Regions from separate parts of the Homo sapiens genome. Here region 2 is reported to be linked to region 1. The links are microRNA targets in miRTarBase. Many come from high-throughput screens and were not tested one by one. Region 1 holds a microRNA gene; the other region holds the end of a gene's coding sequence.

Region 1 (4,147 bases):
AAGAGCCACTGCAAAGAGCCTACAAAGTAAAAGAGAAGTGTGTGCATTCACCAGACAAGCCACCCCCTTTCTGCTTTTGCTCCAGTGCTGCCTCCCGCTGAGACCCTCTCTGAGCACTCTAAAATAGCGCTCTAAACCGCAGCCCCCTCCTTCCTTCTGTACGTCAGCTGCCCCTTACCCTGCTCCTTTTTTTTGCCTTATGCCATTCGATGTCATTTTCTTAGTGCAATAATGACTCATTCTCTGTCCCTATCACTAGAATGAAAGCCCTCCAGGAGCAGGAGCCTTGTCTGGCCTATTCACTTGTGCACCCCAAGTGAACTAAACAGTGACTCACACACAGTATACCCTCAGTACATGTGTGTTCAATGAACGAAAGGCAACCTCTTCATCTCCCAGCCGCAAACCATTTCAGAATCATGTTGAGTCGTGAGTTTAAAGTGGGTTGATTAGGGAGACCTAGGGCCAGGGGTGAGACAACATCAGGAAGCACTCCCTAGGTACACAAAAAAATTAGAAAATGAACTTTTTTAGCAAATGTTTATTTATATCAAAATACAAAACATTTCTGAAGCAGAGTAATGTTACATGAGGAGCAATTAAATACTAAACGTCTTTTCATCAGTTTAACTTGCAACACTCCCGGGGTACCTGCACTGGCTGCACATCTCATCATTTGATGTGTGCCTTCTTTTTTCTCATTTGCTTATGCACGTGTTTGCTCATTTTGATTTGTAATTCAGGATATGAACATGCAGTGTTACTGGGGATGAGTTGGTTAGTACTTAGCAAGCCTGGAAATACCAGCGAGTGGAGCCTGGCGTGGTAGCCTGAGCTGAGGCAGGCTGCAGGTTCTCTTCCTGACTGAGTCTGGGGTGTCACTCCATTTTTGACTGCCAAGTCAAAGGACAAAGGGATCACCATCATCAGCAGCCAGGGCAGGCGTCTATTGCTTAGGGCCGTAGAGCAGGCGTGGCTTTGGGGTCATCTCCAGCGGGGTCTTCTCAGTGTTTGGGAAGAAGGGGCAGGGCAGTCTATAGGCCCAGGCCCAGCAGCAGGATGCCCAGGGTCCCTGCAGGAAGAACCCTCTTCCCCAGGAAAGCAAGGAAGGGTTCGGGAGGAGACAGTTCCTCCTACTCTTGGAAGTCTGTGATTTGGTGGCTGGGGGTGCCTGCCCATTGGAAGGGCCCCTTATAAATGCTTTGAGTTTGGAGATTTTGAGGGAAAAAAAGCACCTGATTGAGAGTGTAGCTGTTTCCAATACACCTCCCTTCCCTGACGGAGAAGGGAAGGAGGCAGAAAACAGGGGAGAGAGCATCCCCCCTTCATTCCCACACCGCCCCACTCCCAGAGCCAACCTGGGCCTCCCTTCAAGCTCGTACTTAGTACATTCACCATGACACTGTGCACCTGTGAGCTCTCTCCCGCTCTCACTCTCTTGCGTGCACACACGCACACGCACACACACGCACAGGTATGCACACATATATATGCAGGTGCGCGCACACACACACATCTGGTTTCCTTGCAGTCTGCTCAGGCAGCAGAAGGGTGTCCCATCCTCACCGTCATCTTTTACTTCCCAGGGTGCCCTTGGCCCACAGGTCCCCAAGACCCAGCCCCAGGCTTGGCACGCGCTGGCATTCCCAGGCTTTTGAGAAGAGGGTGATAGAGCAGGGAGCTCCTCACAGACAGGTTATACAGAGTGTAGAATATGTTCATATAAGGCTTTGGTACAGCACCGATTTCATGTTCTTATAGTTTGATTTCTAAGTCATCTTTTAGAAGAAAAAAAAGCTTACTGAAAAAATAGTGGTTTTATTTACTTTTGAGTTACATACCTGAAGTTCAAAAAGTAAGCCTCTAGTTGCCATTCAAGTTCACACTCAAAGGTGTTCTGTGTGCAGCTGTACAATTTGTTGGTTTGTCTTTAATGTTGAACAAAAGTCAGCCAACCCATACCATAAAGTCAGCTGCCCAAACTCACTTTAACCAGTCCATACATACATACAGAAAAGAAAGAGAGAGAGAGGGAGAACACAAAAGCCGCCCCTAAGTCACCCACCCCAAACCCCTAGGGAAAAATCAGAAAGAAGACAAAATACAGCAAGATATCAGGAGCCAGTGGGAGGAAGGAGATTCAGCCCAACTGGCCTCTTCGAGAACAGCACCATGAAGCACCCTAGCGCAGTGATGTTGTAATACTCAACATTCAAGAAATGGAAACGAGGTTGGAACGGTCTTCACAGGAAGACCTGGCATGGATCGGGGGTCGCCCCCAAAGAAAGTGGAAGAAAGAAAGAGTTCGAAATGAGAGCAAGAAATCTCATGACGAAACTGACAGTCATATCCAGAAAAGAAGAACTACAGCAAGAGGCTGCCGCGCACCGAGAGGTACAGAGTTTGTAAGGGGTCTGGGGGAGGTAGCCCCTCCCCACCCACACTGCCTGCTCACCCCCACCCTCTGTGTGTCCTCAGACCACCAGGTGAAATGGAGGAAAGAAGCTCATCTAAAACTTGCCCCCAGGTGTGCGATGGGAGAATTCTATCCTGCATGATCAAAGTCCCTCCTGGGGAAGAGAAAAACACTGAAGACCAAGGGGCAGGAGTCACTGACATGAAGCGGGATGTGGTCCCTTCACGTCAGTGACTGCGCCCCCTTCTGGGCCCTCTATCCCCAGCCCCACACCTGGCAGTTAGGAAATTAAATCTGAATGGGAGGTCAAGACCTTCTGACACTGATACAGACGACTTAGCAAGTGGAGCGTTAAACTGCTCTTCTCCCCTAGCCAACAATTCCCCTTTCTAACACCTCAGTCTAAAGTTCCAGAATCAAGACCATCCCATCAAGTACCTTCCTCCCAGTCCCTGGACTCTGAGACTCCACCCTCCAATGCCACAGGCAACCCCCTGTGGACAGGAAGTGTGTGTGCAGGCTTGCCTCTTCCCCCACCTCCTACTTTCAGACCGCCCAAAGTGGATCACCATGAACATCTACCGCCAAGAAGAGTGGAAGCGGGAAGCAGGCAGCAAAAATCCACGACAGAGCCTTTTCCCCAAGCTGCTGGTTGGTGACAGTGGGGAAGAGGGACAGGGCCCACACTGATCCATGGGAGAGTGATTCTCACACATCTCCCTATTCCCGACTCTTGCTCTATATAGTAGACAGAGGTAGCAAGACAGAAACAACTCCTCAGATACCTCCACCTTCTACCAAAGGGAAAAGCACCAAAATTCAATGTCCATTCTGCTGTGGGGACCAAGGAACGTGTCCCAAGCATGGGGAAGAGCTCAGGCTCCTGGCAGTGGCTGTGGGCCGTAAAAGCTCCATCAGAGCACACTCATCCACCTGTCGCCCCAACTGATGCCACAAGCGGTTCCCAGGCCTCCTCCTTACTCCACATAAAGCTGATCTCAATGACCTTTGCTCCAAGTGCCTTAAGGGCTGGCTCTTCAGAGAAGCTGGAGGTCCCCTCTGACACCCAACCTTACCTCATCTTGCTGAGCAGTGGAGCAGAAAGGTCACAGGTAGGCACTAACATCCCCTCCACACTGTACAATTTCAAGGTAGGGGCTATGGCCCCATCTTCCCTTTCCCTCCCCAAAATGAAGAGTCCTGTTGGAGGCTGAGGAATAGAATGGTGACATGTGGGCCAGTGGCTCTCCCAGACCTTGATGCTGCTGAGGACCTAATCTTGGGCTGGCCCTGGTGGGAGGGCAAGCCCTAGGACATGCCCGAGGTGTTGGAGCAGTTTACTCTGCTGGTTGCATGTGGCCAGAAGTCGGGCAGAGTCCACAGAAAGAGAGGGGATGGTGGGTCTAGAAGCCAACAGAACAGTAATGGGAGCCTCCCTTGTGCAGAGACCGTGGTGGTCTGGGAAGGCTTCAAGGTAGGAAGGGAACAGAATTTGCACCTCTTCTTCTTGCCCAATCCCCCTGAAAAATCTTACAAGAAACACTCAGCTGCAGGAGCCTGCAAGAAAGATCATTCAAGGCAAGGATGGTGCCACTGACAGTGGCACCAGCACTGGATCCTTCCAGCTGCATGGACAGAGCCCATTTCCCATCAGCGTCCTCGGAAAGTGGGGAGTGTTCTCAGCAGTTAATTTGAGGACCCAAGGACAGTGCCTGACTGAATGGCAGGGCC
Region 2 (4,000 bases), not on the chromosome of region 1:
GCCAACACCAGGCAGGGTGAAGGGTGCAACTGCCATTTGCTGAGATGAAGAATCGGGAGACACAGGTGCAGAGGGAGGGGGAAAGGAATGGACTTTATTGAAGGTTTGCTGATTTGTTGGGGTCCTGTACATCCCCTAGAGGGTGCCGTGATATGGGTGAGCCTGGGCAGATTGACTTGAAAGAAAGGTCTCTGGGATTCTGATGGGAAGGAGGTGTCTAGGAGACACTGTCCCAAGCCAAAGGGGAAGGTCACTTCTTAGTCTGCCCCAATGTCCTGCTTGCATCCCTGGCAGCTCAGAGATTCAAGAGCCTTTCAAGTGGGAGGAAGCTGTGGTAGAAGCTGGGCTGGGAAGGTGTCCCAGGGGCACAGAAGGAAAGTTTCCAGGTGGAAGCTGGGCCCTTTGTGTTGACAAGAGTGTGGGAGGACCAGAGCTGGGAAGCTGCTGAAGGGATGGAAAGGCGATCCTCCCAAGTATCTCTGATGCAGCAGAACAATCCTGGACAGTCACCACATCCCCCTTCCCCCTGCAACCTCTCCTAAACAGAGAACAGAGAGGTGGAGACATACAGATCTTTCACTGGACACCTGGACACAAGAACAGCAAGGATGGCTAAAAAAACAATTCTCCTACTACCACACCCCCAGACCCATCCAGGGACATACAGACGAACACATAGATGAACAGAAAGCCATACCTATGCAGGAACCCGCCGACCGCCCCGCGACAGACATAGGCGCCTGCGCGCCCTCTCCGGGACACACCCAGACCACAGCACAAGGCGCACCAATTTCAGCCGCTGCTTGCTGGGGCTGGGGCTCCGCAAGACACTGGAGGCGCGTGAAGTCCCATGAACCAGCTCCTAGGGCCTCTGCGGGGCATTCTTCGGGCCCAGAAGTAAACGCAGAGCGAGGAAACTTGCGGCAAGCGTCTGCGGTCTTCGCGTTTCATTGCAGACTTCGGGGATAAAATTGCTGCTGCGCCCACGCGCAACTGCACTGGATAGGGAACGGAGGGAGGAGATAGGACAGACGACCACCCCTCCACCCACGTGGAGAAGGCCTCAGACTTCGGGTTCTGAGAGCCAGCACCCTAAATCTGGGTGCGGGTGTACTGGTAGGACCACAGAGTTGGCCTAGTATAGGCGCCTAACTAGGAGTTATTCTGAAGTTTCGGAGAGTAAGAACTTCCTGTCCCCAGGGCCGGGGTGCGTGGGGGAGGGTGGCTACTAAAGGGCAGGCTAGTCTCGGCCTTCGCCGTGGTTCAGCTGCCGCCAAGGGGGTCTCGGCAAAGGAGTTGGAGGTGGCAGCGGGAGTGTAGTTGGGAGGATCATTGAAGGGGCTTTTGGGGATCGACCAATGGAGGGGAGGCCCATCTCAGAGACAGGGAGAGACAAACTTGGAGCCATGGGGAGTGACATACAAAATTTTATTCTTTATTTATTATTATTATTTATTTCTTATGTGCACAAAAGAAAAAGAATCAAAACGAACCGACGCACTGAAAGTGGCCGAGGAGACCAGAACCGTCCGGGGACATTTAGCAGGTTAGGCCTGGGCCTGGGTCCGGGGTCTCTGCCCGGCCAGCCCCACAGGACTGGGATGGGCCGGACCTCGGCGCCCTCGCCGCCCTCGCCGCCCCGTTCGGGCCACTGGAGCCTGGCTGGGCGCCGGGTTCCCTTAAACGATTCTCTTTTCTCTTTTTCCTTCTCAAATAAAAAGGGCTCGCAGGGGAGAGAGATCTGGGCGAGGACTCCAAGCCTTTTCGGATTTGTTCAAGGATTTTTATTTATTTTCACTTTATTGACTTTGTTTCTGTTATTTCGAGTCGTCACGATCCACGGGTGAGGAGACATGCAGGGCGCATCGCCACTACCGAAAGAGCAACTACGGGGCGGGACGGGGCGGCCCGGCCTTCGGCCGCCCGGGGCGCGCGGGGCACGCCCGCGAGGGGGCGAGCCCGGGGGCTGGAGCTGCCACCTCGGATCTAGCCTGCGGAGACAGGGCGGCCGGGCCAGGTCTGGGGAGAGAGGCCGAGGAAAGAGCAGAGACAGACAGACAAGAGCGACAGAGACGGAGAGAGACAGAGACAGAGGGGGAGAGAAGCGGAGAGGAGAGAGGGGCAGAGGGAGAGAGGGGCAGGGAGGAAAAAGCGAAAACACGGAATTACAGAGAAAGAGCCAACAAAACAGGCCAGAGGAGTCCACAGGACCATGTTCGTCATTTTGCATAGAGATTTCTTTTCTTTCGTAATTTTTTTTTGTAACATAAAAAATGCCCCCCTCCCCCAGGACGTGCTGTGCTTTAATGGGCGTGTAGCTGTGTCCCCCCCTTCCCCCCCAGCGAGCGGCGACTCTCACAGCACAGACAGCGGGGCGTATCTACAGGCAGGGCCGGCGGGCGACAGGGACTCTACGGGGCCGGGCGGGGCGGGGCGGAGGGGGAGGGGTTATGTACACCGGGTTTCGCCTTCACACGACACACACCGTCTTTCCACAAAGCAGCAGCCTGGTGGGCTTTTGTGTTGTTTTGTTCCTTTTTGCAAAGACCATCATATTAAATAAATGTAGACTTTTTGTGGTTCTGTTCAGTTCCTGCCGGAGGAGGAGGCTGGGAGGGGATGGGAGGAGTGGAGTGGGCAGCCCCCCACTTCCACCCCGCAGCAGCTCAGACGCCAGCTCAGAACCGGTTCTTACCACCGGCAGATTGAGAGTCTGTGTCGGGGGAGGGGGCATCAAGTAACTGCTGGAGGAAGACCCCAGTCCGCAGTCTATGGAAACTGGTCCTGCGGCGGTCCCGGGAGAGCGTCCGATGGGGCTGCGAGTCAGGGAGGAGGATGCAGGGCGTCAAGGGACAGGCGAAGGACTGGCAGGAGGGGAAACTGGGAGGCCAGCAGGTGGAAGAGACGCTGAGGTAGGGGCAAGGCAGGGCTGAGAGCCGGGTCTCGCAGCAGGAGGTGCCGGGCCCTGGGGAACTAGGCAGGCCAGGAGGAGCAGTGAAGAGCCGAGAGTCCGGCTCGATCGGTGCGGGCTGCTGGGCCCCCCGATCCTTGGGTCCCAACCTTGGAAAGACCTGACGCCCCCAAAGCCCGTTCCTAGAGCCGGACCCCCACACCCCCATTCCATCTTCTGGGACAGGGCACACCCGGAAGGCGAGGGCAGTCCGGCTGGCACTGGGGGAAAAGAATTTTTCCCAGGGATTCGGCAGCGGGCTCTTCCTCCTGCAGAAAGTCGTTTTCTTCTTAATCTCCTTGGCCCAGCCCCTCCAGCGAAGCCTCCTGGCGCCCGAGCGTCCGAGGCGGGTGCCCGGGGCTGGGCCGCGCTGCGGTCCGCGCTGATTGTGTGTCACAGAAACATCCGGCGCGCGCCAGCAGGTCGCGCCCGAGTCCGGCAGGGTGGCTGGCGGGCTTCGGGGCTGGCTTGGTGGAGGCCGGGACGAGCTGGGCCGAATCCCCCTCACGGCGCCGCGCAGTCCAGGCAGGCGGGGAGGGGCGGCAGGCGGGGCTGGGGGCGGCGGGCCCGGGCCTGAGGGTCCCGCCCACGGCTCCACCCGTCCTGTCCGACCTTCGAGGGGGGTGATGTGAAGGGTTGCGGGGGTCGTGGGATGGGGTGAGGCTGGGGCGGTGGCCGGGAGGCATCGCGTCGCGTCGGTCCTCCCTCCCTCCGGGGTGGGGTCAGACGGGGACGATGTGGAGGCCGAAGCTGTCGGCCTGAAGCTTGATGTGGTCCCCGCGGTAACTAGTGGCGGTCATAGGCAGCGGCAGCAGCGGCAGGGGCGGAGCCCCGGGGGGCGGCACTATAATAATAAGGGGAACCTGGAAGTTAACACAGGAGAAGAATGGGCTGGGTGAGAGGACAAACAGGAGAACAAAAAAGGAAAGAAAAGCACAGAAAAGACCTCCCCTGGCTGGGGTCCAGCGGGATCCGGACTGGGAGACCTTGGCTGGGCAGTGGAGCCAGTTGCCCCGGAGAATAGTTGCGTTCACGGGGCATGAGAGGGAC

Evidence for each region. Region 1 holds the annotated microRNA hsa-miR-4697-5p (AGGGGGCGCAGUCACUGACGUG, at 2,640-2,661, opposite strand). A microRNA usually pairs through its seed, bases 2 to 8, with sites in the 3' UTR of a target mRNA and lowers its output. Matches are read on the target gene's strand: a 7mer-m8 pairs with bases 2 to 8, a 7mer-A1 pairs with bases 2 to 7 and ends in A, and an 8mer does both.
Region 2: miRTarBase lists PAX2 as a target of hsa-miR-4697-5p. Seed matches in the 3' UTR shown: 8mer at 3,504-3,511 and 7mer-m8 at 1,950-1,956.

Annotation. Positions count from the first base shown.
Region 1 is chr11:133,895,912-133,900,058 of GRCh38, forward strand. It overlaps MIR4697 (microRNA 4697), which reads right to left and starts at 2,670; the gene lies at 2,593-2,670. IGSF9B (immunoglobulin superfamily member 9B) reads right to left here. Exons shown (of 20, transcript NM_001277285.4): 20 at 527-4,147. RefSeq lists an enhancer at 1-328.
Region 2 is chr10:100,827,356-100,831,355 of GRCh38, reverse strand. It overlaps PAX2 (paired box 2), which reads right to left. Exons shown (of 10, transcript NM_000278.5): 10 at 1,412-3,813. The coding sequence ends at 3,737. Among named protein-coding and RNA genes, the nearest start is that of SLF2, 84 kb to the left of the region's middle.